2 linked regions of the Homo sapiens genome follow. The protein of the gene in region 1 interacts with the protein of each later gene in a pairwise test. Each region holds a gene or a part of one and is shown on either strand. Other genes may lie near its edges.

Region 1 (3,656 bases):
GCTAATCCTGACACTTGCTTTAAAACTACATTAAAAAAAGAAAAAACAACAACTCTACAGTTAGAAATACATATATATTTTTTTGAGACGGAGTCTCGCACTAGGTTGGAGTGCAGTGGCACGATCTCGGCTCACTGCAACCTCCACCTCCCGGGTTCAAGCGATTCTCCTGCCTCAGCCTTCTGAGTAGCTGGGACTACAGGCGCGTGCCACCATGTCCGGCTGATTTTTTTGTATTTTTAGTAGAGATGGGGTTTCACCATGTTAGCCAGGATGGTCTCGATCTCCTAACCTTGTGATCCGCCCGCCTTGGCCTCCCAAAGTGCTGGGATTACAGGCGTGAGCCACTGCGCCCGGCCAGAAATACATATTTTTGAATAATTTTCTCTCAGCACTGAAATTACGACAGATACCATAAGAGGCAGTATTTGCCTTTCCCATCAGAGCCAACTCATGACCTGAAAATTAAAGCCTATGCCTTTAACAGCTTGTTTACATCAAAAACCTACAGAAGTGCCTTCCCCCTGGGTAAGCGTTCTCTTATTTGTTGACAGTGTCTCTATTTTATCTCTTAAGACCACAGCAGCAGCAGCCAACAGCAAACAAGTGCTTTCCCTGCAGGGTGCTAAGAACATTTATCTGCAATGATCTCATTTCATCCTCACCACAGACAATAAGGGCAGGTGGGCAAGATTCCTTACTCTGCAATTCCCCCAGGTCCAAAAGGGTCTGAACACCAAGTGTTTTCTACCAGTGTGGTGCCAAAACTCACGCTGGAGCTGTTTTCACCTGTAAGGACATTTATAATCTTTCTTTGTCCTACTTAGTGCAGAATTAATCTATTTAAATACAAGGTGCTTCCCCAGACCCCACGTGACTTCTCTTAAGCTAGAATTCCAAAATACATCTAGCTCCAAGGGTTCCAAAGACGGAGCTGTGAACCCAGCTTCATCTTCACTTTCCAGAGTAGGGACTGGGACTTGAGGCAGGATAAAACCGAGGGTATACAGATCCAGTCTTCTACCTTCCCTAAGTAAAGAGGCTAGAAATCCATTCAAATGGATTCCTTCCAGGGATCTGGACCTTCCTGAGATGCCTAAAATCCAGGCATTGTTGATTAATAGCTGTCCATAAGAAACACTGAGAGCAGCTTTGAAGAGTTCACCCAGGGGAAAGCCTTATAATGTAAGGAATACCCAGCCCCTGCGGTCTCCACTGTTTGCTCAACTGGCCTCTGGAAACTTGTTCTTTCAGCAATTGGGCCACCAGTAAAATGGCCTCAGACTTTAGGTAATGTGATCTGTGAGTACTGCAACTGCAAATGACAGCCTACCACACCCTCACAAGATACAGTCAGCAAGCTGCTGAGCAAAATATCTGTGTCTGTTCAGGCGAGAGGGGCCCTGGTGCTTCCCTAGGAAGGAAAGACGATCCATCAAACCCTCCAAGATCAATGGCAATCTCTGCTCTAACTCTATACCCTGCACCACATTAACATTCTGTTCCACAATACCATCTGCAAAGATCGCAGAGCAGGCCCTTCTGTAGCCAGTTTTGGCTCCTATTATGAATAATTCTTTTTTTTTTTTTTTTTTTTTTGAGACGGAGTTTCACTCTTGTTGCCCAGGCTGGAGTGCAATGGTGCGATCTCGGTTCACCGCAACCTCCACTTCCCAGGCTCAAGCGATTCTCCTGCCTCAGCCTCCCGAGTAGCTGGGATTACAGGCATGCGCCACTACGCATTTTGTATTTTTAGTAGAGACGGGTTTTCTCCATGTTGGTCAGGCTGGTATCAAACTCCCGACCTCAGAAGATCTGCCCGCCTCGGTCTCCCAAAGTGCTGGGATTACAGGCGTGAGCCACCACGCCCGGCCTAAATTCTTAGCTGGTTTGTAAAGTGTTCTCTTGGTACAATTTATCAGCCTGATTAGCGCTGGTTGAAAAAAATAAAATATGCCCTATATGGCCCTATAAAGCTAAATGTTAGATCACAGATTTCTTTTTTTTTTTGTTTGTTTGTTTTTGAGACGGAGTCTCGCTCTGTCGCCCAGGCTGGAGTGCAGTGGCACGATCTTGGCTCACTGCAAGCTCCGCCTCCTGGGGTCACGCCATTCTCCTGCCTCAGCCTCCTGAGTAGCTGGGACTACAGGCACCTGCCACCACGCCTGGCTAATTTTTTGTATTTTTCACAGAGATGGGGTTTCGCTGTGTTAGCGAGGATGGTCTCGATCTCCTGACCTCGTGATCCGCCCACCTCGGCCTCCCAAAGTGCTGGGATTACAGGCGTGAGCCACCACGCCTAGCCCACGGATTTCTTTCTTTCTATTTTTATTAGAGACAGGGGGTCTCACTGTCATCCAGGCTGGAGTGCAGTGGCACAATCACTGCTCACTGTGGCCTCAGCCTCCGGGGCTCAAGTGATCCTCCTACTTCAGTCTCCTGTATAGCTGGGACTATAGCCACGCACCACCAGGCCCAGCTAATTTTTGTTTTCTTTTTCTTTTTTTGTTTTGAGAGACAGGGTCTCACTATGTTACCCATGCTGGTGTTGAATTCCTGGGCTTAAGCAATCCTCTCACTTTGAGACCATGGATTTCTAGTTCTGCAGCAACACTCCTTGCTTTTAACCAATCTCTCGTCAACTTTTTTTGCTCAAAAATACAAAAGCAGGCCAAATGCTGTGGCTCATGTCTGTAATACCAGTACTTTGGGAGGCTGAGTTGGGAGGATCACTTGAGCCCAGGAGTTCAAGACCTGCGTGGCAACATAGTGAGACCTCATCTCAGAAATAAAAAATTAGCCAGGCATGGTGGCATGCACATGTAGTCACAGCTACTTGGGAGGCTGAGGTGAGGTGGGAGGATTACTTGAGCACAGGAGGGCGAGGCTGCAGTGAGCTATGATTTTGTGCCACTGCACTCCAACCTGGGCAACATAGTGAGACCCTGTCTCAACAAAACAAAACAAATGCTTCTCAGTTTTATACTTTTCCTTTCTCCTTTTTAAAAAAGAGTATATATTTTCTTGAGACAGGATCTTGCTCTGTTGCCCAGGCTGGAGTGCAATGGCATGATCATAGCTCAGCAATGTTGAACTCCTGGGCTCCAGCAAACCTCCCAGTCAGCCGGGCGCAGTGGCTCATGCCCGTAATCCCAGCACCTTGGGAGGCCAGGGAGGGCGGATCACAAGGTCAGGAGATCAAGACCATCCTGGCTAACAAGGTGAAACCCCGTCTCTACTAAAAATACAAAAAATTAGCCGGGTGTGGTGGCGGGCACCTGTAGTCCCAGCTACTTGGGAGGCGGAGGCAGGAGAATGGCATGAACCTGGGAGGCGGAGCTTGCAGTGGGCCGAGATGGCGCCACTGCACTCCAGCCTGGGTGACAGAGCAAGACTCCGTCTCAAAAAAAAAAACAAAAAAAAAATCCCAGAGTCTCGCTGTCATCCAGGCTGGAGCACAGTGGCACAATCATGGCTCACTGCAGCCTCAACCTCGCAGAGCTAACTTTTTTATTTTTAATTTTTATAGAGAAAGGGTCTTGCTATGTTGCCCAGGCTCATCTCAAACTCCTGGCCTCAAGCAATCTTCCTGCCTCGGCCTCCCAAAGTGTTGTGATTACAAGTGTGAGCCACCGTGCCTGATCTAAAAAAAAAAA
Region 2 (2,945 bases), on another chromosome or scaffold:
AAATCTGAGCAAGAAGTTTGTCATATACAGCACCTCAAGAATGTTTTTAAAACGAAAGAAAAAAGCCCTGGTTTTCAATGTTTTGCCTCAAACCAGAATGGCATGGTCTCCAAGTAAGAATGAAGGAATGCACGTCTATATTCTGAATGCAAGGCTACTGAATTTCATTAATAGAAGCAGTAGTTTTCATGGACTGCATACTTCCTATGTCAGGTACTGGGCTAAGCACTTTCCTTGCTTCCCACACTCAACTATACATTGTTGGGAGTTTTCCATTTTTACTTTGTTTTCAATGGGATTCTCCACTAAAATATCTGCTTATCTAGGACTCACGGGTAGGTAACTTGGACAATACATGGAAAGCACATTCTCTTACACATAGTAGGCACTCAGTAAGTATCTGTTGAATAAGTGAATGGATGGAGAGAATTAACTCCATTTTGAACAAATTATCTTTCTGAATGCAACCCTAAAACTTTGCCATTCATATTTCTCAGGAATGTCTCATTTAACTGATAATTTGATTCCTGGCCCATGCGTTAGTAAAAGTCATTTTTACATCAAGTTTCTATTTTTAGAGATCCTCTTTCCACAAGTAGAAATGACATAAACCACGCTCGTCTCCTTAGTTTATTTTTTTCTAGAGTCCTTAACATGCTACATTAACCTGACAAAGCTTAATCTTGTGTTCGTTTCACAATACATTTCATGCAGTTCACAGCTGTGATTGGTTTTACATTGACATTACACATGTTTCGATTCAGCCATGTGAAAAGAGTAATTCTTAATGGGGTTTGTCTCTGAAAACTGTCCAAGCTTAAATAAGCATATGAGCAGTTCACTCTATTCTTAAGTGCATCTCTCTTTAAAATGCAAGGATTTTTAGTGTAAGAATATAATGTCCCTGTTTATAGTCCATTTGCAACAGAACCACTTCCTTTAGGTTTCACATATCCTGAGGAATCCACTTTTACAAAATTGCATTCAAGTATATTATTTCATTTAACATTCCAGGTTGGGTTTAGGTGCAAGGCTGACCTTCAGCTTTACATCCCCAAATAAATCTTCCACGGACCCAGCCTTCCCAAGACTATTCTTAACATTAGACTCTCTTTTACAATAAACATTCAGCACTAAAGCCACAGAACAGAGCTATTTGGCATTTTCCAGTGAAGTGCAAGAAGTTAAATAAGTTATGTTTTTATTGCTAATGTATAGAATCAAGCACAGTCACTTTGTCAAACAGAAGGAAAGGGCATACACAAGATGTGGCCTCTCCTCAGATGCCTCAGGGTCAAAACGCACAGAAAATGTCACCTGGCCACCACCCATCCAGCACCACTTTAAGATGATGTGTTGAGTGTTCTAGAGTCTGAGGAGTCAGACCTCTCGTCATAGTCGTCCTCGGTGTAAATGGACTGCTTTGACACAAATGGACACCCATCATCAGGGATGGAAATCCGAGGGTCTTCCGTGGCGCGGGCAGGAAGGACGGGCGAGCTTCTGAAGACGCTGGTAGAGTTACTGGGGAAAGGACTGACATACTGGGACCTCAGCTGATACTGCTGCTGCAGCGTCATGGTGTTCCACAGGGTGACATCATTGGGCAAAAAGGGGCTCGACTGGCTTCTCGCCAAAGTATTCCTCAGCATCAGCGGGTACCGGGGTGGCTGGGGGAAAGGGGGCTGCAGAGGCCCAGCCAAGGGACTGGGGACAACGTTGCTAGAGTCGGCAGAAAACCTCAACGTGTCTGGGACTCGAAAGGCTGATCCCACAGACCATTTGGAAGACGAGATGGGGTAGGAGCTCAAGGTGTGTTCAAAGATGTGCCCATTGGAGGGCAACGCTAGACTCTCAGGTTCTGCGGAAGTTCGCTCTGCTCCCGTGACTGAGGATCGGCTGGACAGAAGGACTTCCACGGCGCTCACCAGGTCCCCGCCACAGCCCTTGAGGATGAGCTCAAGCACCGTTGGCTTCTGGTTGGGGAATATCTTTTTTAACACTTCAAGCGGCGGTCTGTTGGCTTTCAAGCTGAAGGGCAGAGAAACAGTCCCCGAGGGGCCCTCAATCAGGAGGTGATTCTGCTCCGCGTGACACTTGGGGCTGTCAGGGCGGCTCTCGGGGTTGCCTCCGTTTTTCTGGACAGCGTATCCCCCTTCCTCCACGGACACTATCTCAGGGCTCTCAGGGGTGAAGCAGCCCTTACTCTTTGCCACATCTGGGGAACTCCTCTGGTCAGTGTCTTTGTCACTGAAGACCTCTGTATTGTCTGCCGACTTGCCGTCTCCAAGTCGTTCTTCAGTCAAATCTGGAAAACAGAACAGCTGAGTTAATCTTTTCCTGGTGTGCATAAAGAGGAGCAGATGTGCTCAGAAGAGACCTGTACACGTGCTTTTTGGAAGAGCAAATGCATCTCAATGGGTCATAATATACTACAAGCCTTTTTAAAAAAATTCGAACTATATCACTGGCAAATGAAACAAAAACCCTGTAAATAAAGATCTAGAAATCAGAGTGGCTTCCTGGAATGCTTTGTGCAAGGAAGCTTGCCTTCAACATAGAATGGCTACATGAACCTGTAACATATGGCTTTCATAGCAGTAACAATCTCAATAGAGAGCCTCTTTGGGAGGAGGGGTGGGGGACTCCTGGAAGAGCAAAGCTCAGGGAGAAACAGGAAAATCAGCTCAGCTTGTCTTCCGGCTCCTCTTCTGCAAATAAGGTCCCCAGCTGTTATCTAGGGATAGTACCATCCAGATACCCACAGGGAATTTTAATATCTGAAATCTATTTTCCCATAGGCTGATTTTGTGTTAAATATGTCTTATGAACCAATCAGTAAGTTGCATCAGGTTACCATATACAATAGCTAGCTAATTCAATTGCTGAAGTGAAAGATACCTCTATCCATTGAAATCTTTCATAAGAAGCCACTTGAGGCATTG

What was found. The genes of interacting proteins can lie anywhere in the genome.
Region 2: the proteins of AKAP8L (region 1) and DMRT3 interact in binary tests that used the Homo sapiens proteins (3 or more experiments, as listed by UniProt).

What each region holds. Positions count from the first base shown.
Region 1 is NC_000019.10:15,412,483-15,416,138, forward strand, and holds part of AKAP8L (A-kinase anchor protein 8-like), read right to left. Parts: intron 1-3,656. UniProt on the Homo sapiens protein: Could play a role in constitutive transport element (CTE)-mediated gene expression by association with DHX9. Increases CTE-dependent nuclear unspliced mRNA export.
Region 2 is NC_000009.12:989,404-992,348, reverse strand, and holds the end of DMRT3 (doublesex- and mab-3-related transcription factor 3), read right to left. Parts: intron 2,309-2,945; coding exon 1,344-2,308; 3' UTR 617-1,343; downstream 1-616. UniProt on the Homo sapiens protein: Probable transcription factor that plays a role in configuring the spinal circuits controlling stride in vertebrates.